Linked DNA regions of Homo sapiens: regions 1 and 3 are each linked to region 2. Evidence: fine-mapped expression QTL. A gene starts in region 2. Each other region holds a variant in brackets. All regions are shown on one strand. Distances are from middle to middle.

The links. PIP is the estimated chance that this variant, and not a neighbour inherited with it, causes the effect.
Region 1: its variant is fine-mapped to the expression of PRKG2 in tibial nerve (GTEx, PIP 0.94).
Region 3: its variant is fine-mapped to the expression of PRKG2 in blood mononuclear cells (TOPMed, PIP 0.92).

Annotation. Positions count from the first base shown.
Region 1 is chr4:81,252,704-81,260,890 of GRCh38, reverse strand. No RefSeq gene overlaps it. Among named protein-coding and RNA genes, the nearest start is that of PRKG2, 42 kb to the right of the region's middle. The variant G/C (reference allele first, on the strand shown) is at 4,742.
Region 2 is chr4:81,211,532-81,219,718 of GRCh38, reverse strand. It overlaps PRKG2 (protein kinase cGMP-dependent 2), which reads left to right and starts at 4,497. Exons shown (of 19, transcript NM_006259.3): 1 at 4,497-4,783. LOC124900726 (a long non-coding RNA gene) reads right to left here and starts at 4,833. Exons shown (of 2, transcript XR_007058162.1): 1 at 4,761-4,833; 2 at 3,495-4,154. RefSeq lists enhancers at 4,464-4,964, 4,965-5,465.
Region 3 is chr4:81,149,003-81,157,189 of GRCh38, reverse strand. PRKG2 (protein kinase cGMP-dependent 2) reads left to right here. Exons shown (of 19, transcript NM_006259.3): 7 at 3,469-3,546; 8 at 5,136-5,230. Among named protein-coding and RNA genes, the nearest start is that of PRKG2-AS1, 12 kb to the left of the region's middle. RefSeq lists enhancers at 2,698-3,211, 3,212-3,726. The variant A/G (reference allele first, on the strand shown) is at 3,056.

The sequences.
Region 1 (8,187 bases), 41 kb before region 2:
GATATCTCAGGGGCAAGGCTCTGGTGGATGAGGACAGATACTAGGACTGGCTCCCTCCATTAGGCCTCCCCACCACAGCACCTTCCCCAGTGTCTCATGTCTGGACTGGAGTAGCGTTGGGCAGACAAATTAGCCCAGTTCCTCCGCAGGACTGTAACTAGGGAATGAAACATCAGTCTCCACTTCCTGCCGTCACCCTAAATCCTACCAGAAATCTTGTGGGGCTACCCACAAGATTGAGGGAGGAAAAAATCCCCTTTTTCCAGTAGGGGGAGCTGCAGGGAGGAAATAGTTTCTTTTTATTAAAAAACCCACTGTACTCCCCTAAAAGCGAACTCTATCTGGCTCCTATTTCTCATCTCATAGTGTTGCCGGATGGGAGGAGAGAAGTAGAAATGCCTTGTACTAACACCACAAGCCCTGGAAAGGTGTCTGGACTCCACTTCTCACGGTTCTTTCAGGAACTTAGCACTCTTTTCCCACTTGGCTATCGCCATAGTTGTTTTACAAGACAGAGCCTGATCCGGCACCTAATATCAGAAATTCTATTGCAAAAATAGATTTTTTAAAAAAGCTTTTATGCTTAGGAATTCAGTGTGTGAAAAATGGAGGCAATGCAACACATGAGACTTTTAAATGCTGTGTGAGAAGAGTAAATGGTAAATTTGTGGGTGGGTTTGTGCATGAAGAAGCTTGTACATAGGGAAGTCACGACTCTTCTCTTTTTTCAGCAGCGCACAGAGGTCTCTTCAGCGCTGCTTCATCACTATTCGTTTTTATCTTTACTCCCTAATCTTTTGAGGAATACTCTATCATATTTTGAAACCTTATCTTTTAGTACTCCTCTTGCTACTTGGAAAGAAAATGTAGAAGGTCAAGAAGAGAAGAAAAGCTTTGAAAAATTGTGTGATAGGTAACATCTACTCATTTTTATCCTGTTGGAAGAATCACATTCGCTTAATACATGACACTGATTCAAAACAGGTGGACATAGTTTCAGAAAAGTGGTAGGAATGTTTGAAATTTGATTCCTATCGTAATTTCTTCCTCTCTGTGAGGTCAGTACTGGTATCTGAGGGGATAGGTACATTTTACTTAGAGCTGGCTTAACACTGGGGCTGGGGTTCAAGCTTCACTGTAGAAAGATTGGAAAGAAAAAGACTAGGAAAGCAGGGAGGTAGGACTGAAGTGGTTTCTGAGGATGGCTGTGGTAAAAGGAAGGGCAGAGGAGATGGCATTTGAGAGTCACCTGGATTAAAAGGCAGGTTGAGTGGGAGAGAGGACATTGCTGAAAGGAAGGTAGTTAATTAAGCTGAATTCTGCTGTAGCAAGTCCCTGGGAAGTGCTGACATAGACTGAAGGATGATTGACTCTGGGACACAAACCACTGTATAAATTATATGAAATGAATAACACATGGGAAAGGTCTTAGACACATATGTAACATATAATGGAAATTCAATTAGTGTTGGTTTTCCTTCCCTTCCTGCTCTTGATGGTGCTACCAGGTGACACATAAAAACAGATTGTGTGAGTTTGGGTCAAAGTGTCACTGTGACAATATTGTCTCAATAGCACTTTCAATGCAGGTAAAAGTTCAATTCAATGTGTGAAATGGCTGAGTGAGAAAAATAGCAAAGTCACAGATCAGGATAGAAATAAAGCTATACCCTTACCTGGCATTGAGAATGAAATAATAGGGGTCTAGCTTCTCTTGGGAAAGTAGGAGTAAATGGAAGCCCAAACCTAGCATCTCCAGGAGCTAATCCATGAGCTAGTGACCATGACTATGAGAGGAAAACTAAGCCCAGGGAAGAATGTTGGGAAGTTGTAAAAAAAAGTCATATGATGTGGAAGTCCATGGATAATGAACCTTGACATTTGGAACATGTTCAGGTGTTAAATCCAATTTCTATCTAAGGAGGTCAGAATGCATAGGGCAATTAAAAGGGTAGTGGTAGGCAACTGCCTGCTTCTGTGTGTCCTCTGGGTATGGGCTCTTGGAATCTCTGGCTAGCTAACCTGAATCTACAGTGTCTTGATTGTTTACAATGCCTTTTTATGGTTCCTTCCTACTATGAAATGTACAACTGCTAGTGAGAGAAATGCTCAAAATGAAACTTTCCTCTTTACTAATTAATCCACTCTTCAATCTTTATTTAGATACTCAACACACATGTGCGTGAGCATGTGTGCACACACACATACAGACACAGAGTGCCAATTAAGACATGAATTTTCCACTACCTAGAAAGACCTTCATATTTCTTTGATCCTTCAGACTGAGATCAGATGTCTTTTTCTGAAGCATTCCCTGACTCCTTGCCTTAGGGTAGTTAAGCTTTCATAATGTATTGTAATATTTCAGGACTTCAGAAAACTTTGCTTTGTGTAATGGGCCTACAAGACACCCTGAAAATGATGTTGATTAATTATCTTTGTATTTATTTACAGGATGGTTGGTTGTTATTTTCTGCCACTCACAGTCAATTTTCCCTTTTATTTTGATAAGAGCATCTTATTTTCTTCTGGGAAATTTTCCCTCTTCCGTTGTGTGTACTTGATGGGGTTGCCAATCTTGGTGGGGCTGCCAATCAGCCCCACCAAGGGGTAGGCATATGAGCCATGATGGCCAATTGGACTAAAATGGAACTATTTACCTGTTTAAGCAGAAGGGGATTTATTACAGAGAATGGAGTATCCAGTAATTATTTGCAGAAAAAAATAATTGTTATATAACAAGTAACAGTCTGCAAAGAGAACTGTTAACATCAGGAAGCCACGGAAGTGGGAACCACGATGCCAACTTCTGATTGTCGTTGTAATCATTGGTACCAGAAATATGCATGTTAGCTGTGACTGACAGATAAGAAACCATGGCCACAATTGTTGGCCCCAGAGCCATGACATGCCTGCTGGGACTGCACCAACAAAATGGATGACCCATGCCATCCTCTCAATATCTAACAAGTGGCTAGCTACTGGGATTTCAGCTAAAGCTGTTGCAGAAAAATCAACCACCTTGCCATTTATGTTCTGCACCAGAAATTGCAGAAGCAGCACAAATGTGGCCTCCACCTCACTTCTGCCTTTCTGATCTCACATGAACACATGTGACTAGCTGAATATTATTAAGTACCTTCTGGAACACTGTCTGCAAACTAGACTATGGAATATAATGTTTAGCTTTCTGGCCTTAACGATGACTGAAGGGACTCTAGATGAGGGCAGAATGGATATTGAATATCAATCCACTATATAAACAATGGACTATCCCCCCAGGCTCTTGAGCCCAGTGGTTAAAGAGCAGAAGAAAAATGGTTGGAGCCAGTGGGTCCTCTTGCAATATCCTGAAGACTAGCTACCTAGATCCTCCAAATGCCCTGATTCCTGTCCTTTTAGGTTTCTGCTTTTGTAGATTTCCCTTTGGGTCTGGGAGCCCCCACCAGGACCTTATAATTATTTCCCTTTTACCTGTAGTTAGTCAGATTTGAGTTTTGACATTTGTAATCAAACCACCTCAATGGATACATTTAGGAACTTAATTGTCAGTGTTGGCATCCTCAATTCTTGCAGAATGAATTTGGTTGGCCTTAACTCTGCATCTAGAGAGCTGGCTGCTACCGATGTGAATAGCACCCTTGGAATTCTAGTTTCTAGAATCAAAAGTCAAAGAAGTCCTTGGATGTCATCCAATCCAAACTCTACTTTTTTTTTTTTTTTTTGGTTATCAGACACATTCCTTTATTATTGACATAGAAATTCTTAAGATAGTTCATGTAGACAAAAAGTACAATTATTTTAACAGCATAGAAATACCTTTGAAAGAAGAAAAGGTATATAAACAACTCTTGAAAAAAAATTTTAGATTTTAAATCGTTGCCATTATTAACTAAGAGTTTTATTGTAGAATTCATAGCCAGACTTGTCAAAATCTGTAAATATCTTATAGAAAGTTCTGTGATAAGGAAATTCATACTCAGTGGAAATGCTTTGGGGATTTTTAATGCGGAGATTGATCTTAATTTTTCAAATTACAACAGGCTTATCTATCAAAGCTTAATGAAATACAAACTTTGCGAATGATCCAGCCACAATCTTACATGCTATGCAGATTTCCAAATGCATTCCATGTCCTTCCACAAAAACACTTCCTGATGAATAATGTTTAACTTGGTCTTTTATAGTAGTGGTCCAAAGACTTTGAAAAATATTCTTAAGAAGCTACTACAGGAGCTTCCAATTTAATGAATTTTAACAGCTGTTTCTGCCACTAGGCCTATAAGTGGAACTTGATTTCCCTTGAGTCAATTCCATTAATTTGTTTTTATTATTTTAGGATAGCGAATATGCTTCAGCTGGCTGCGTTCAGAAACTAGAATTGGTGTGGGTGGCACAGCAACTCTGGTTTCAATCAGTCTTCCTCTGAGGGCTTCCCCTGAAGACCACCCAGATGGATGGGTGGTGCAAGAGCAAGCAGGGCCACAGTGTGAGTCGGGGGCACATGGCTCCATTCTGCACTCACGGGTGGGGCATTTCTGCTAAACACTTGGGAGAATTTCTCAGGAGATCAGGGCACTCAACAGTTTTCTGAAGTGGTAGAGCAATATTATTTCCTCTCAGCTTGCAAAGTGCACAGACCATCCCTCGGGTGTTTAAGCCCACACCTGCTGGAATGCACTTGGAATACAAGGTCAAAAGGACAGTGCTCAAAATGCAGCTAGGCTTCAAGGGGACGGAA[G/C]GTGACTTCAGATTCTATCTTAGTAAATTAGGGATAATAATATCTGCCCTACCAATTTCTCAGGGCTATTATATGTATAATATACAGATATAAAGACAAATATATTTTAAAAATAAATATTGCTAAGCATTTCAAATAATTTTAGACAGAGGCTAATACTAAGCTTACCTAAAAATGTTGTGCCTTACAGACCATCCCTCTCTCCCTGTGGTGAGGTTGAAGTGAGGTTTATTTTTTCCAATTATTTTATTGCCAAAGGTGAATTTCTAAAGGAGAAAAGTTAGGATATTTCCTTGAGAAATCTGAGCAATTGGGTCAGCACAGATTCTCTGAATTACTTATTTCTGATCATCAGTGCCCTTTGTCATCAGGTCATGGGCTCTATGGGAGTGCTAAGGAAAGAATCAAGTTGTACAATCATCTTGGCTCCACATGGTTTGTATTTGGTTACATCTTTATCATAACAGCTTAGTGCTTGGGTTTGCCTGACTCATAAGCTCAAGCTTTCAGAAGCTGATTACTCTGTAATGGATTGAATTGTAAATGGCATCTCAATGAGTAAAATAACTGTTATTTTCATTTTTATTTCCCCGTATCCAAACCTAATTTTTTTGTTTGATTACTGTTGCTGATTTTTGGTGTAGGCAGAGCTGGAAGATGTGGATGTGGCTAGAGGATTAAAAATATTGTTTTTTCCTGGTTTCAAATATTATATATATTTACTGTAGAAAACATGGAAAAAGCTAACAAATTATGATGAAGTTAATAGAAACATCCAAAAATGTCACCACTCAGAGTCATTCATTTGTAAGATTCTTGTTTAATTTTTTTCTTTTATTTACTATATAACTATATACTTCTTTTTTATTTAAAAAAAGTACTATTCTGTGACCTGTTTTATTGCTTGTGTTAAGCATATTTGTTCATCTGTTAAGTATTTATTGAGTGCTTTCAACTATACATTTCTAAGTCACTACAAGATATTCACCATGGTTCATGTTTTACTAACTTGTGATCAACAAAGGATGGGAGGGATATAGCTTTTTTTTTCTTTTGTATGTGTGTCACTGATTCAGCTCAATCATACATCTGAGTTATCCCTAATTGGGTTTCTAAAGACTCTTAAATTTGAAGAATTCATAAAAATCAGCAGGTATGATCATTGTTTTTGTCAGTGAGTATGTGAGTCACTTTTATATTAATTTTTTTCAACTTAAAGAATGACTAGCCATCACTACTGAGTATGTAAAGAATCTGTAGTACAATAGATAAATACCTCATGGCAACAAACTCTCTTTTCTACAACTTTAATACTTTTAAATCATACAATATTTTTATAAAAAATTATCAGAAAAACCATTATGTCCACTTTTTCCTTTATAGTCAATACATTCAACAAACATTTTAAAGAACCTTTAACATACAAGACACTGAGCAGGAGAATACATGATTCTTAATCATTGAGAGTTTACATTCTAGTTGGGGACTGTATTAGTCTGCCCAGGCTGCCATAACTAACAGAACACCACAGACTGAGTGGCTTAAAGAACAGAAATTCATTTCTCACAATTCTAAAAGCTAGAAGTCCCAGATCAAGGTGTTGGCGGATTCAGTTTCTGGTGAGGCCTCTCTTTCTGGCTTGTAGATGGCCTCCTTCTTGCTGTGTCCTTTTCTCTGGGTACACAGGGACAGGAAGGGAGAGGGAGGCGGGAGAGAGAGAGAGAGAGAGAGACAGAGATCTCTGGTGTCTCTTCTTCTTTTAAGAACACTAGTCATATCAGATTAAGGTCCCATGCTTATGACCTCATTTAATCTTAAGTACTTCCCTAAAAGTCTTATATCCAAATACAATCATTGGGGGTTAGGACAACATATGAATTTTAGGGGGACACAGTTCACAGGGAACCAGTCATGAATATAATTGTCTAACTTTTAAATGGTGCCATATGAAGATATAAATGAAGTGCTATACTTAATTTTGATTGGGGACTGAGGTTCCCAATCAAAGCTTCACAGATGAATTAGCATTTTAGTTTGTCTTAGACACAGACCCTGATATGAAGATTCATGTGCAAGCGAAGAAGTGCTCCCAGAAGAAACTAGTAAGGAAAGGGGTGAAGCAGAACAGGGAACAGAAAGAAGCCAAGCATAAGGGTGAGATTTCAGGCAAAGTCCTGGAGAGGCAGTTTTAGCCTGATATTGCAGGAGGACCCTAGAGTTTTGAGTTTTACCTTAGGGTTGGCCTGAGTCAAAGGAAAGTGAGCTTGATTTTTATGCTCCTGTACCAGTCAGTCAGGGGCTAAGGGCTGCCCTGGGGTGAGGCTGGGGAGAGGGGGCAGGACATAAACTCCCAGGCCCTCTGAGCTCTGCTTCTATGAGCACAATGGCTCCAGCAGTTTCAGGACAGTCCTGTGAAGTGAGTTATAGGTACAAGCTATTAGAAGCACAAGCTGAGAGGCCAGGAGAAACACAAACAGCAGTGGTAAAAGAGATCTGAGAGGCTATGGGTGAAACATTGACTGCGTTCTCTACAGTGATGGGCATTGAAAGGAAAGAGTAGAATTTCAACAGATTTGAAAATAGGAAAGAAGATTCTAGACCTGTGCTGTCCAATATATTAGTCTCCAGTCATATATGACTAGTGGCTTCTGTATTGGACCATGTAGATATAGAACATGTCCCTCAACAGAAAATGTTCTATTAGACAACACTCTATCTAGACTAAGGATAGTATGAATAAAATTACAGAAAGGTGAAGGAGGAAGTAGTTTACTAGGAATATATGACCAAGATAGTTGACCAAAACATAGACTGTGATCAAATTACAAAAAGCTTTAGAAGCATTGATCCATTAATTGTAGCATTTAAAAAATAGACATTGTTCAATGGGAACTTACTATTTTAAGGGCTCACCCTAAAAGTATATGTAAAAGTTGGAGTACCTCGTTTGCAATCCTGTATGGCCTCCATACCTGGCCTTATACTAGGTTTCTTTGTACCTTTAGTTGAAGACATTGTCTCTTATTTGGTCTTCTGACCACTCTTTTCCTTTACCTGGCCTCTTCTTCAGCCATTACTCCATCACTCGTTCCATTGCCTCCTCTCTTAGATCTAGGCTTGAATCTTTAATCCTGATTCTGCAGAGTTTAGATTTCCTACCTAGCGTTTTGAATTTCCTACTCTTTCTTATCAACTTTCTCCCACTTAGTCCCAATTGCATATAAATCCCCACTTGTATGTATAAAAGACTAGAAAATGTTAGGAGGTAGAATGAGGCAAAATCAGGTTAATGGATTCTGGAGTCCTGAGCATGTAGATAGACTATGGGCAAACAGTCAGAGGAGATAGAGAAATGAATGAAACAAAATAGAGGGGAGATAATAAATGGAATAAGAAAACGTTAGAGAGCAAGCTTTTCTGTATTGTTGAAAATAATCTCTGCCTTG
Region 2 (8,187 bases):
AAGGGAGATTGGCAAGTTAACAAGGATTTGTAACTTGGAGCACCATGTTGCTGTGGGGTCATGGGAGAGAAGCACTATCCTTCATGGTCAGCAAGACTTCATGGAAGAGGTATTGAGGTAAATAAAGGGATTGTGGGCTGCACGGAGCTTAGATAACATGAAAATTTGGGTGGATCCAATTGGCCCAGTTTTATAACCATATTGAGTGATGCTGGAACCTGGACAACAAAAGCATCAAAGGCAAATGGGATTTTCTCTTGGCTAGGGTTTGGCAAAACCAATCAGAAAGGAGGGCACTATGACTTGAGGTTCTAGCCTTAGCAACTGAAATGGCTGCTCATGGAGTTAGTGTGGTAGGATAAGGAAGCCTGAAGATAAATGAAAGAATAAAAGAGGGAAGGAAAGAAAACCAAAGACATGGTGAGAAAATGGAGTGTGAATCACCAGCATGGGAGTTTTGTCCCTCTTATGTCCCCAGGAGATTTTCTGCTGATCCATAGAAGGGACCTCAGTTGGGCCTTGGAGGGCTCCAAGCTGGAATTAAAGATTATGAGCACAAGGCTGATCTGATGGGGTGCCCTGACAGGAGTCTGTGTGCAAAGGTAACTATAGAGCCTCCTGTGTGGAAATTTATCCCAAGAAAATAAGATTGGCATGGGATGATCCTGAACTCAAATTGAGTCATCCAGGGGCTTGGGAGTCTGAATTAAGTATGGAAACATTACTGGATCTCTTCCTAGCTCAGCCTCTTGGATGCAGGTCCCTGCAAGAAACAGAAAGTGGGCAAAACCGGGAGGTTTCTGTGAAACACTTGGGCTGCTTGGGGACTTTTCTGTGTATAAAACAAGGGAAGACAGGCCTTTTATCATCCCCATTTCCATAGGCTACCTCTGAACTTTGACAATGTGAGAACTCTGGTGCTCTGGTGACAGTGCTTAGCAGAGACCAGGAGACCTAGTGGAGCAGAGGCTTACCTAGTAGGAGGAGGATTAGTCATGAGTATGTCCCACATCGCCCATGTGCTTAGATTAACATTGCAGACGGGCCTCTGAGGGGCCTGTGTTCTTCAGTCAATGGCAAAGAAAGGCCAGTGGATTTTAATTTCTCGTTGTCTTTGTACAGGTAGAAGAAGTCAAGATTTTAGGGTCTGGAATTATATAGACTGGCTCTGCAACTTATTAGCTCTGTGAATTTGATCAAAGTTACTTAACTCTCTGAGTTTCCTTCCTCAGGTGTGCTTACCTCCTCAGGTCAAAGGAGTAAATGAGAAATTACATGGAAGCCTTTAACTCATGACACAGAGTCCAACATCACAGGCCAGATTCCTTCAGCCTGAAGGTGCTTCCTCCTCACTCCCTGTCTCACTCTTACTCATCTTAAGTTTAAATGCCCTCCACTTTTTTTTTTTCCAGAGAGACATTATTCTTGAGCCCCTGTAGCAGACTCTAGATTGCCTACCCAGCATCCATTGCCACCCTCTCCTTTTTATTCGGGTATGCACTTCTCAAAGAATGCAATCGGGAAGAGTTAGGAACCAGTCCTGCAGAGCCTAAGAGGCTGGGAATGGTGATTCTCCCCTCCACCTCCAGCATTTAGGTGTGAGCACATGCTTAGTTTGGATTAATGACAGGTGAGAAGTCTCCTGGAAGCTTCCAAGAACGATTTCCCGACTCTGGAAAAGAGAATCTCTGTGACCTTTGGGCACTGTTGGGATTGCCCATAATAAATGGAGTTGTTCCAGTCATCCTGGGGCCATGGGTGGAGCAGCCCCAGGGGACAAAGCTGCCATACTGGGAATGGCAGGGGGAATAACGGGAACAGGCCAGGGCCTTCCCAGACACAACTGTGTTCCTGAATTCACCAACTAGAGCCTCCTGACCTTGGAACTTCTTGCCTTGTGAAACAGTAAGTTTCCTTATAATTTAAGCCATTCTAAATTGGGTTAATTATTAATTGCAGCCTCCCACATCTAAATTATAACCCCATATTTTTTTCTCTCATTTTCCTTCACAGTATTTCTCCCACATATGCTTACTTTTGTGTTTACTTATTTAATGTCTGTTTCTCTCACTGGATTGTACACTCTAAGTTGGCAGAGATCACAAGTTAATTTTGTTCACCATTGAATTCTAAGTATTTAGCACTGGGCCTGAGATGCAGGAGCTGCTGAAAGCACATTTGTTGAAAGACTGAATTAAAAGCTCAAAAAGTGGTCACTTTCCTTCTCTTCCTCCGTTTCCTTGTTCAGCATGGTAGAGTTGTAGATTTGACAGAGCATAGGATTGCTGGGAGGGAACTTAGGTTCCCCCTCAAACTCTTCCTAGCTGGGTGACCCTGGGCAACAGCCTGCACTGCATCGACAGCTTTCAAGCTTTTACCTCAATGAACGGTAAGAAAGTACATATGACCCAGTTGACCCAGTGTGCGTGCATACTCTGCTATTTTTTATTCTATTTGGTATCATTTTAAAAATGCTGGCTTTGACCCAGTACATCAATTTTATAATCCATTAATTAGCAACCCATTGTTTAAAAAAGCCCAGGACTCAATGAAATGTAAGGACTTTGCAGCATTATTCACAATAGCAAAATCATGGAGTCAACCTACGTGTCCATTAAGGGGTGATTGGATTTATAAATGTGGTTTTATATTATATATATACACATATATATATATATATATATATACAAAATATATACACACACACTATGGTGGTATACACACACATACACTGTGTACCTATCACCTGAAAAACTGGGAAAATTTTTTTTTGATTCAGGGGTACTACACACACACACACACACACACACACACACACACACACACAATGGAATACTACCCAGCCACAAAAACAATGAAATCATATCTTTTGCAGCAACATGGATGGAACTAGAGGCCATTATCCTAAGTGAAATTACTCAGAAACAAAGTCAAAAACTGCAGAATCTCTTATAAGTGGCAGCTAAACAATGGGCAGGCATGAGTATCCAGAATGGAATAACAGACACTGGGGACTCCAATAGGTGGGAGGGTGGGAGGTGGGTGAGGTAGGAATTACAACTTATTAGGTACAGTGCACATTATTAGGGTAATAGGTGCGCTAAAAGCCCAGACCTCACCACTATGTGTTATGTCCGTGTAATGCGACTGCACTTGTACCCCTGAATCTGAAATTTTTTTTTAAAGTGAAGACTTTGAAAATCTGTTTTTCTCCTTTTTGTCATTAAATCGCTAATAAAAATTCAGCCCATCAACTTAAAAGTCCATTATTACAGTGACATACAATTACTTATTTTCTCTTTTCTTGTGGAATTCTTCCTCACTCCTTTCTCCTCTAATTTTTTTTTTTTTGAGGTCTTTATAAAATGTACAGACTCTGGGATAGCTTCATGAAAAGGTACTTTGTGTACTTTCGCGATTTTCCTCCAGTTAGCACAAAAACAAACAGGACTATATTCCTCCTCCTCTGAAACTTAATGGTCTCATTCAACATATTTTACATGGGCCTCATTTTTAATATAAGTTTATGTATGTAACAGTGTATACAAATGTTACATGAGCCCCACTGCCACCATGTGGTTTAAAAACCCAAGAGAGTTGGTTGTAACATTCTCTAGATGCACAGTGAGGAATAGACCCTCACTATACTTTCCATCTCTCAACACAGAAACTGCCCTTGTCCTCCGTGAATTTGCTGGTGAAATTCCTCTGGGGGCAGAAGGAAAGGGAAAAAGCCACATGGAGATCTCACAACTCCAGAGCACAGCAAATAATGCGGTGGGGTGTACATATATATTTAGGAAACCATATTGCACCCTTCAGGAAAAAAAAATGTACTCAAAAGGTGACGAGAGAGCATTATCTTCTTGGGTGATCAAGAAAGCTCCCTTCCCAAAGACCTGCAGATTCGGAAGGTATAATCTCTGTCCCTCGAAACTCGATTCAACCCCTGCCCCCAGCATCACGTGAACTGGCAAACTAGATGTAAGTTATGGCCCCAGAGTCCGGGAGGGGCGCGTCGACGAGCTGCTTCGGGGTCACATGTCTTCGTAGAAAGGCATTGGTGTGACAGAGGAGGGCATGTCCAGGGTACGTGCGCCTGTTTGAGCTCTGGGAGGGAAGGCGAAGTGGAGAGAGCCTGCAGTGAAAACAGACTGGAAGGATGGAGGAAAGGGAGGGGAAGGAAAAAATGAACACCTCCCTGAACTTTCCTCTCCCCTCGTCCCACACACTTGAAATAGAAATAATAACATGAACAAAAATGCTTACAACCACGATGTTATCGCCCTACTTAAGTTGCCTCACTATGGAGGGTATGGGGTATAAAGTGCAGACTGCGGCTGTGTCGGGAGTAAAGGTTCGGGCTAGTGTGCGTGCGGGCGCGGGTGACCCCACCTTTAGGGAAGCCGGCGCCCAACTATCCAGGCAGTAGCCCCGGCTGACCCCCTCCCTCCTCCTTCCCTCCTCTCTTCCCTCCCTCCCTGCGTGTCTCCTCTGCACCGGCCCCCGCCGCGGAGCCAGGCGGCAGCACCGACGCCGCCGCAGCTCCTGCCCGCATCGCGCTAACCCGCGCCCCCGGCTCACACGTAGCCGGAGCGACTGAGCCGGCAGCCCCGGGCCCACGCTGCGCACCGTGTGCACGGCGGGGCTGGCTGAGCTGACCTGCGCTGGGCTCCGGCGCCGCAGGCGGCTGGGGAGGGCGGCGTGGGAGAGGACGCTGAGACGCAGGGGCGGCCGCGCCGAGGTGACAAGCTGCGCACCTGGAAAGTTACCCGGCTGTCTGGTGAGGTTCGTGGGCCGGGGGTCTTGGGCGCCGGGGTGTGAGGGCGCGCGGGGAGGGACGGGGTCGGGGTGCGCGCGTGTGCATGCTGTGAATGCGTTGCGCGATGTGCGCCTCTATTCCACACCCAGCCGGTCTCTTGCTTGTGCTGTTCGAGTGTGGACGTGTGTACGCGTTGCATTCGCTCGGTGTGGCAGCGTTTCGTGAGCTCCTGGAGGCAGGGAAAGGCTACTTGTGTTTAGAGGTTCTGTTGAGGGCGGGAGGGGCTCAGCCCCAGTGGGGAGTCCTCAGGGTTCTCTAGGTTTAGCGAGGAGAAGCGGTGGAGGCTGTTGCTCCGAGCTAGGGGCTTGGCGGTGCTGTCAGGGCTTGCGCTCCCGGCTTTGCTTCGTCGAGCTCTGGGTAGTTGCTAGGGGACAGTCCTCAGGCAAGGACTTTTAGGAGTCCTGGTAAACTTGTGTGGGTGTCCTTTTGTCACTCTGGGCACCGTGAGGCGCTTTCATATTTCTGTATTTCTCGGTGATGAAGAAACAAGAGCAAACAAAGCCCAGAAACCAGCCACTTTGGGGATGAGAAAAAAAGAAATAGGTTCAGTTCTGAGAAGAACTACGGTGCAACTACGAAGCAGCTGAGGCCAGAGCTGACAATAAAAGCAACGCATGCAGAATTAGTAGGTAGGAAGGGTGACGCTGGGACAAATGCCTTGATTTCCTGATCTTCATCTTGTTCCCCAAGTTCCCAGGGGCTTTTTCCTTCTTCTTCTTCTCCTTCTTTTTTTTTTTTTTTTTAAGGAAGAGAGCAACATACACCTGCCCCCACCCCACCACACCCCCATATTTAGAGTTTCTTAGAAATTGTCTCTTTTCTTTGCAAGTTTCTATTTAACTCATGAAGAAGGCGATCATCCCACATAACATACACTAGCTGTTTTCAGTACTCCTGTTTAGTTTTGCACAGGAGGGTATGAGCTAATATGGTAGAGAATTCTCTATGGAGAATTAGAGTGCATCCTCTCCGTTGGAACGCTGTATGACTAAGAATAAACGACCTGAAAAGATGATGCCCAGGGATCTTTCTCTTTTACGTGAAATCCTTAACTCCAGTTCTATGAAGTCATTACAAGTGAGGCTAATGAGAATTCACCTCACAGTGAAGGCATATGTTGCCTGGCTGTTGCCCAAGTCCTGTGATCCCTTATTGTCTTGCTTCCTCTAGGCTATTTTTCCTATGAATTATCTCTTCTTCTCCCATGTTTTCGTTTTTCATATCTCCTGTGCTTCATTATCCTGGAGCTACAGACATTTTCAAATTTTCATTATTTTAAAAATCCCTCACATGAATCATGATATCGTCTTGCAGGCTCTACTCTTAGTGTCAGCTCTTTCCATGGTCCCTTGTAGTTGAGTGTCTATCCCCACTCTTTGACAAATCAGATTCAGCACTTTTCTCTCTGATCTCATTTGCTGTGACAGGCCTGTGGGATGTGAGGTACAGCCTGCTCACCTCTTAAGGATCTTATCTGCATGGCCTTTCTGATGCTTCTCCTAAATCTCTTATTGGTACACGTGTTCCTTCTCCTTTGTGGTTTGCTTCTCCTCCTCTTCTCCCACAAATAATATCCACAGATATTACCTATATGTTCATAGGTAACAATAGAGACATTCCTTTCTTACCTCCCTTAGTGATCTCATCTACAAATGGTACTTCAAGTCTTCTATGGAGCAATCTCTTCCCTTGAGTTTTCTTTTTTGCTTCTACCTGCTAGACATTTGCATCATGATGACCCACAAGCATCTCAAACTCAATATATGTAAATCCAGACTCATTACTGTCTTTTCAAAGCATGCTCATTCTCCTGACTTCTGTCAGTGCCACAGTGTCTAGCCCATACACGGTGCCCTATGTGTTCTTTTTGAATGACTGAATGAATGAAGAGTAGATAGTAATACTTTCCTTCAAGCCTCCTAAGATCAAAACATTGAAATCATTTTGATTGCCCTCCCATGCACATCCATTTAATTACTACATTAGAGATGCTATCCTGCAGTGTTCCTCCTACTCACCCTCTTCTAATATTAATCTCTTCACATCCTCTCTCACTTTAACCAAAGCAGTACCTTCTTACCATATCTTACAGTTTTCTTTCCAACCTCATATAGACCTAGACACTCTCCTCTCCTCATCGCTAATATCCTGGGCACTTGCCTCCAATTCATCAACTTCAGCCTCTATTTATGTATCAATAACTGCTTAATATTTTCAGCTTTCCTCTTTCTTTAGCTTTTCTTGTCCCTCATTTCTTACTGCTCACTAAACTTCTCTACTTAAAGTTTCCACTGGTGCTTCAAACTGAGTATATCCAAAATTAAACTCACTGTCCTATCCCTCAAATCTGCTCCTCATTTTGGTCAATGACATTACCTTTTACCCAGTTGCCACAGTATAAACTTTCAAATCCTCATCGTCTTTCTTCTTGCCACCACTCAAAAATTCTGTCAGCTATAATCTTCTGACCTAGACTTACAGACCTACATTTCTGTGTGTTTGCTTGTTTATCTGTTAATGTAGCCCCCCAAATAGCTGAATTTGGCAGTCAAATATAGGATAGTGGCATTCATAAAATTCACCGCGAACATTCTGCTGGGGGGGTGGGAGGGAGGCACTTTAAAGAGATAACCAACCTCCAGAGTAGCTGCAACTTTGGTACAACAAGGTCATATGATTTCCTGTCAAGAGAAAGTTTTTCTCCAGCCAGGATGCTGTGGACAGAGAAAACAAGCAGTAGATTCCAAACTGAGCCCCGGGTCAACAGTCACAAGGTTGGATGGACAGATGCTTTTAATTGTGGCATTAATGTGAAAGTGAGCTGTTTCTCACAAGGACAACAACTCTGTGTGGTTTGCTTCAGGGAGAAGAATCAGGGATTTATATATTCAATTATTTTCTAAAGGAACTTTAGAGAGACAAGCTAATGGTAACATCAAATGTATCAGTTTCCTATCCACCTAGAATATTATCTGTAGAAGTCTGTATAATTCACTCCTCTGATTTCCAGCTGAACTGCCCATTATCATTAAAAAATCAATTCTGGTTTCCATGATTTATTGAAGGGAAGGACATTGCAGTGTTACATATAGCTGTAACTTTTATTGAATCTCATATGGCAATGTTTTTCTCTCTGGCTACCACGGAGATGGTCAATTTTTTTCTTGAGTTCAAGAAGTTCAAGTCATTAAATAGTGTTGGGACTCTGAGCTTTAATCCTTAAACTATCACCTCCTATTTGGATTGGTGCAATAGTATCTTCCCTTGTCTTACTTCCTCTAAGCTCTTTTTACTCCATTCCTTATTTATGAGAATATTATTTTCCTAAAGGACAAATCTGACCACATAACTAGAGAACTTAGTGT
Region 3 (8,187 bases), 63 kb after region 2:
AATCTTGCTAGTGGTCTATCAATTTTGTTGATCCTTTCAAAAAACCAGCTCCTGGATTCGTTAATTTTTGGAAGGGTTTTTTGTATCTCTATTTCCTTCAGTTCTGCTCTGATTTTAGTTATTTTTTGCCTTCTGCTAGCCTTTGAATGTGTTTGCTCTTGCTTTTCTAGTTCTTTTAATTGTGATGTTAGGGTGTCAATTTTGGATCTTTCCTGCTTTCTCTTGTGGGCATTTAGTGCTATAAATTTCCCTCTACACACTGCTTTGAATGCATCCCAGAGATTCTGGTATGCTGTGTCTTTGTTCTTGTTGGTTTCAAAGAACATCTTTATTTCTGCCTTCATTTCGTTATGTACCCAGTAGTCATTCAGGAGCAGGTTGTTCAGTTTCCATGTAGTTGGCGGTTTTGAGTGAGATTCTTAATCCTGAGTTCTAGTTTGATTGCACTGTGGTCTGAGAGATAGTTTGTTATAATTTCTGTTCTTTTACATTTGCTGAGGAGAGCTTTACTTCCAAGTATGTGGTCAATTTTGGAGTAGGTGTGGCGTGGTGCTGAAAAAAATGTATATTCTGTTGATTTGGGGTGGAGAGTTCTGTAGATGTCTATTAGGTCAGCTTGGTGCAGAGCTGAGTTCAATTCCTGGGTATTCTTGTTGACTTTCTGTCTCGTTGATCTGTCTAATGTTGACGGTGGGGTGTTAAAGTCTCCCATTATTAATGTGTGGGAGTCTAAGTCTCTTTGCAGGTCATTCAGGACTTGCTTTATGAATCTGGGTGCTCCTGTATTGGGTGCATATATATTTAGGATAGTTAGCTCTTCTTGCTGAATTGATCCCTTTACCATTAAATAATGGCCTTCTTTGTCTCTTTTGATCTTTGTCGGTTTAAAGTCTGTTTTATCAGAGACTAGGATTGCAACCCCTGCCTTTTTTTGTTTTCCATTTGCTTGGTAGATCTTCCTCCATCCTTTTATTTTGAGCCTATGTGTGTCTCTGCCTGTGAGATGGGTTTCCTGAATACAGCACACTAATGGGTCTTGACTCTTTATCCAATTTGCCAGTCTGTGTCTTTTAATTGGAGCATTTAGTCCATTTACGTTTAAAGTTAACATTGTTATGTGTGAATTTGATCCTGTCATTATGATGTTAGCTGGTTATTTTGCTCGTTAGTTGATACAGTTTCTTCCTAGTCTCGATGGTCTTTACATTTTGGCATGATTTTGCAGTGGCTGGTACCGGTTGTTCCTTTCCATGTTTAGTGCTTCCTTCAGGAGCTCTTTTAGGGCAGGCCTGGTGGTGATGAAATCTCTCAGCATTTGCTTGTCTGTAAAGGATTTTATTTCTCCTTCACTTATGAAGCTTAGTTTGGCTGGATATGAAATTCTGGGTTGAAAATTCTTTTCTTTAAGAATGTTGAATATTGGCCCCCACTCTCTTCTGGCTTGTAGAGTTTCTGCCGAGAGATCTGCTGTTAGTCTGATGGGCTTCCCTTTGAGGGTAACCCGACCTTTCTCTCTGGCTGCCCTTAACATTTTTTCCTTCATTTCAACTTTGGTGAATCTGACAATTATGTGTCTTGGTGTTGCTCTTCTCGAGGAGTATCTTTGTGGCGTTCTCTGTATTTCCTGAATCTGAATGTTGGCCTGCCTTGCTAGATTGGGGAAGTTCTCCTGGATAATATCCTGCAGAGTGTTTTCCAACTTGGTTCCGTTCTCCCCATCACTTTCAGGTACACCAATCAGACGTAGATTTGGTCTTTTCACATAGTCCCATATTTCTTGGAGGCTTTGCTCGTTTCTTTTTATCTTTTTTCTCTAAACTTCCCTTCTCGCTTCATTTCATTCATTTCATCTTCCATTGCTGATACCCTTTCTTCCAGCTGATCGCATCGGCTCCTGAGGCTTCTGCATTCTTCACGTAGTTCTCGAGCCTTGGTTTTCAGCTCCATCAGCTCCTTTAAGCACTTTTCTGTATTGGTTATCCTAGTTATACATTCTTCTTTTTTTTTTTTTTGAGACGGAGTCTCGCTCTGTCGCCCAGGCTGGAGTGCAGTGGCGGGATCTCGGCTCACTGCAAGCTCCGCCTCCCGGGTTCACGCCATTCTCCTGCCTCAGCCTCCCAAGTAGCTGGGACTACAGGCGCCCGCCACTACGCCCGGCTAATTTTTTTTTTGTATTTTTAGTAGAGACGGGGTTTCACCGTGTTAGCCGGGATGGTCTCGATCTCCTGACCTCGTGATCTGCCCGCCTCGGCCTCCCAAAGTGCTGGGATTACAGGCGTGAGCCACCGCGCCCGGCCTATACATTCTTCTAAATTTTTTTCAAAGTTTTCAACTTCTTTGCCTTTGGTTTAAATGTCCTCCCGTAGCTCAGAGTAATTTGATCGTCTGAAGCCTTCTTCTCGCAGCTCGTCAAAGTCATTCTCCGTCCAGCTTTGTTCTGTTGCTAGTGAGGAACTGCGTTCCTTTGGAGGAGGAGAGGCGCTCTGCTTTTTAGAGTTTCTAGTTTTTCTGCTCTGTTTTTTCCCCATCTTTGTGGTTTTATGTACTTTTGGTCTTTGATGATGGTGATGTACAGATGGGTTTTTGCTGTGGATGTCCTTTCTGTTTGTTAGTTTTCCTTCTAACAGACAGGACCCTCAGCTGCAGGTCTGTTGGAGTACCCTGCCGTGTGAGGTGTCAGTGTGCCCCTGCTGGGGGGTGCCTCCCAGTTAGGCTGCTCGGGGGTCAGGGTCAGGGACCCACTTGAGGAGGCAGTCTGCCCGTTCTCAGATCTCCAGCTGCGTGCTGGGAGAACCACTGCTCTCTTCAAAGCTGTCAGACAGGGACATTTAAATCTGCAGAGGTTACTGCTGTCTTTTTGTTTGTCTGTGCCCTGCCCCCAGAGGTGGAGCCTACAGAGGCAGGCAGGCCTCCTTGAGCTGTGGCGGGCTCCACCCAGTTTGAGCTTCCTGGCTGCTTTGTTTACCTAAGCAAGCCTGGGCAATGGCGGGCGCCCCTCCCCGAGCCTCGCTGCTGCCTTGCAGTTTGATCTCAGACTGCTGTGCTAGCAATCAGC[A/G]AGACTCCGTGGGCGTAGGACCCTCCGAGCCAGGTGCGGGGATATAATCTCGTGGTGCGCCGTTTTTTTAAGGCCGTCCCAAAAGCGCGATATTCGGGTGAGAGTGACCCGATTTTCCAGGTGCTGTCCATCACCCCTTTCTTTGACTAGGAAAGGGAACTCCCTGACCCCTTGTGCTTGCTGAGTGAGGCAATGCCTCGCCCTGCTTCGGCTCGCGCACGGTGCGCGCACCCACTGACCTGTGCCCACTGTCTGGCACTCCCTAGTGAGATGAACCCGGTACCTCAGATGGAAATACAGAAATCACCCGTCTTCTGCGCCGCTCACGCTGGGAGCTGTATACTGGAGCTGTTCCTATTAGGCCATCTTGGCTCCACCCGCTCTTACATTTTCTTTCTCTCTCATCCCAACAGGAATACTATGACAAAGGAGATTACATCATTAGAGAGGGCGAGGAAGGAAGTACCTTTTTCATTTTGGCAAAAGGAAAGGTAACTATTAATTAAAACTTACTAAATAAAAAAGATTATTTTAAATCAGTTTGCCATAAACTCAACTATGCTTTGCATTGCAACATAGGTCCTCCACTTTGGACAGATAAAGGAGCTTCTACCAGTAGAGTCCCATGCAATTCTGTTTGAACACTGGCTTTGGAGTGGAGGCCACAGGACCCCCTAAGAAATAATAACTTCTTAGTGATGTTATGTAGGTCACTTGATTTTTTGGGGAGAGACCTAGCTTAATTGTATATGAGATGGCTGGATTATTTATAAGGTCCCTTCTGGCTATGACTATGTGATTCTCAATCATCCCCAGATTCCAAGATCAGTACTAGAATATTTTCTTATCCAATAGATATGACAAGTAGCAGGTGGAGAATGAATTCAGCAATTGAAGACAGTCATGATTAGGTATCAGGCTTATAGAACCAATATGGCTCAGAATTTCAATTGATACAAAACAGCTCAAGTGAATTTAGATGCTGATGCAAAATTTATACTAACATGTACAATAAGTCTTTTTCTTTACCTAGATATTGAATGGATAACATGTTGCCAGTTGTTCCAATGTTGACTCAACAGTATTACTCAGAGATGAAAAGCATTTGTGAAATATTGAAGGGAAGGGCCAATTCTTGAGCACCTGTGTGTATAAACTGTCAGATTTTTACATATGTTATATGGAAGGGTTTACCATCAGGGAGTCAGGCACTGCCATTTGTAAACTGGATTGTGGTTGAACTTTGAATTTGGCCCCAAGTGAAGGAAAAACATGAACAAAATAGTTTCAAACCTCTGAAACTCTTCAACACTAGGAACTACTTCTTGTCATTTTTTCCCAACCTAGACCCCATACTTTGAAATAATTCTTGGTGATAAAAAATTGCATTTTTTATTTTTAAAATTTTAATTCATTGTGACATACATAAATGCCAAACAGAATTTCTATTCAGCCTGAATCAGCACTTGTTACCATGTTGAATTGGAATAACTCTAGCCACAAACAGGGCTTTTTCTGTTTGGCCCTGCTGGGTGGGGGGTTCTTAAGCCTTTCTGGGCAACAGATTGCTTTGAGATGCCCATGAAAGTTGTAGACCCTTCTTCAATCAACATTTTGCATTCAGTTTTAGGAGGTGCACAGGATTCGGCCAGTCAATCTATTGATACCAGACTCAGAACTACTGATACTCAACCTTATTTTTGATTAATTTGTCAACTATATTAGGCTTTTTAAAATAGAAAAAGTTCCCACAAGACCATTATTATTTGCTTTGTGGATCTCTCAGAAGGAATCACTGGATTCACATTTAAAATTTAACTTTAGGAGGTGGAGTTTAGATGGTGAATTTTCCTCTTACAGTGGGTAGTTATTTGATAATATTAGACCATAGGACTTCCCACATCCATCAAAATGGGCTGAATGTAGGTAATTGTCCTAATTACCATAAAATTAAAACAAAGTATTGTCTTTTTCCTTGTCCAAGTTTATATAGGTCTAGAGGGTTTGGTTGAATGAATGTGTGTTCAGATTCTCCTTTTTCTTCAGTCTCTTTCTGTTTGTATTGCTTAACATTGTTTAGGTAAAAGTAACACAGAGCACAGAAGGCCATGATCAACCACAGCTGATAAAAACACTGCAGAAAGGAGAATACTTTGGAGAAAAAGCTCTTATCAGGTGAATTCATGAATTATATGCCATACTTTGGATAAAATGCTTCGACTATTTTTTATATAAAATCATTTAGAGTTGTTAAATTGAGCTACCAAGTTAATGGCAACAAATATCCTAATATTAAATATTTTGAAGTGATTTCTTAAATTTTTATGCGGGAAATGAGTATGCTAATTTGCAGAGGAAATAATTGGAAAATCTTAAGTTTGCTAGTGAAAATGAAATTGGTGTTCTATTAAACTTTTTAGTTTCAAAAAAGGGTCTGAGAAAAGGTTAAAAATGGAAAAATTACACTTGTATACAGATCTTTATATTCCCAACATTTGAAATATTGCCTACTTTAGAGTTTTCACCTTTTTAAAAATTACGAAATAATTTTATATATTTTGTGTGCTTTTAAATCATCAGGTCAAAAGTATTTTTCTTAAGAATTTTTATCAGCTCGTTTTGCAAGTTTTAAAAACAACTCAAAATAGTATATTTGCAATTTTTACCACAACCTTCAGTCTTGAGGTATGAGTTTATTTACTGTTGATCTAATTTATGGAAGAAATATTTTTAAAAGTTAATTAAATGGCTCGAGGGACACTTTGCATTTCCTGGAACTCATAAAACCTCAAGTCTGATCAAATGCATTTTCCTAAATATAAATAACTTTATAAAATATTAAGTTAAAGTTAGAGCAACACACTTTATTGGAATTATCTATGTTTTCAAGTTAATACTTGGAATTATTTAAGAAATCAGTTAAAATTTACATATGATTAAATGCATTTGTTTCAACTGTATGCTTTTGGAAAAGGAATAGTATTCCTGTTCATTTATCTTCTTAACCTTTGCCTATGAAACCCCAATTCTGCTGATTTGTAGATCAGGTTTACATAAGTACAGAGCAAAGAAAAAGTGTTCAGATATTACCTGAAGACAAATTTGAGTCTTTAAAAATCACAAATCTCTTAGTTTTTAAAGAAAACCAAAAAAATAAAGTTTTAGCTATTATGTAGCAATTTAAAAGTGGGATTTAAAGATAAGCTGAATTCTTCTTTACCACTTTATAGCCGGTAATGAACTTGTTTCAATATTAGGAAAATTAATATTCTTTGTGTTTATTTGTAACAGAATATAAATACATTCATGCAATATAATAATGTAATATCATTATCCAGGGCTTCAGTGTCTTTGTTCTTAACGCTTACAGATTTTCTCATACTTTCAAGCAAAACAACGGAAGCTTGAAAGTGCACAGCACTTTATAAATGCAGTATAGAGTCAAAATAGCTCTTGAAAGAAAATATGTTATTCAGTTTTGCTGGGCCTGAAATAATTTATGCTATATGTTGTGGCTAGCCAATTATAGTGTTTTCCAATAAAAAAAGCATGGGAATTTATGTTTAAGATAGACACTCAACTCCTAAAGGTGTTTGAAAGCATTAAGCTAAAATCAATGAGAAGGAAAGTTGGAGACAAATATTTTTATATTTTTGTGCCTTTTAATGCTATCACATTTTAGGGCCACTGACCGTGATTCAGTAATCCTTATATTCTGTATATTTCCATGACTTGACATTAAATAGTCCCTGGAGTTCTTTCAGAATTTTATGTGCAAAAATAAATCTATGGCACTTACACAGTTACTATGGAAGAAACATAAGTGTATTTGCATACATCTAATACTTGTAAAATGTTTGCAGAGAATATTCTCAGTCAAAATCATGATACTGACATGCAAAAGGAATACCATATGCCTTTCCTTTCTCTAAGCTCACAGATCAAATGGTTGGCCTACAATCAAGATCATGTCTGTGTCTATGTCTATGTCTATGCTTATGTCTATTTCTAGATCTGTCTGGCTCTACATCCACCATCTCTATCTCTATCTCTACCTCTACATATACAAGCACAAATTTTCCTGCTGCTGTCTCAAAGGTCCATGAAACTGAAGTGTTTTCACTGATATCTTCTAACAAGGACCCTGTAAACTTGGGAGGGACAGTGAGTTATGTCAGAAGGTCTCAGAATGTGAGCTAGGTAGATAGGGGTCTTTGAAATAGTAGAGATGGGCTGCCAGTGTTTTTCCTGTCCCATTACTAAGAGAAGGCAAAGGAAATACACTTTGTGCGATAACATTTTTGATGAAGTTGCCTAGAAGAGTCCCAAAGCATACTCCAGGGTATGCTTAGTACTCCCAAGTCATCTTAAATGAATCTCAGAGCACTGGGTGCCTTGTGGATGTACCTTTTGTGTGTGTGTCTTTTAGTTTATAACTAATAGAGGGAGGAAGCTAATATAAGTAAAGGTCTGTAAAGAAGTACTTTACCTGATACCCACTGGCATTCATTAGGTAATTAAATTTGCTACCATTGGATCATATATAATTGCAAGATGTCAATTATAAGATGCACTGCTATATTATATACACCTAAGAAAAAGAAAATGCTGCTAATTACACTACAATTTATCAATTTTAAGACATGCTCTAATTTCAGAGATTTTAATGGAAAAATATACACTTTACACTTTGAAATGAAAGTATTTTAGTATTTAATTAATTGGGTGATATGGCACTGAAACTACTTTTTTATTTTATTAATGATTGGTTGATCTTATGCTAATTACTTGACTGTTTTTCCAATACATTTCTCTGATAAGTTAATTTCAGTTTTGCCTTCTTGTTAGTGAATAGTTCTCCTTTGATCAGAGGAGAGCTATTTTATTTTGACTTTCACAAAGCTCAGAATGAGATTCCATAAACATTTGTAGTCACTTATTCTTCTCTGTTCCCAGTGCAATTATCTTCTTCTCCTCTGAATTCTTTGTGTACATAACCTCTACTGGGGCACATTTCAAATCTTTTTTTGGGGGGATATAAATTATGATGTTTAAAAGCAGCAGTTTTTGGGAGGTGTAAGTGATGGTGGTGTTTTCATACAAAGTTAGTACATTCCCTAATAAAAGTGGAT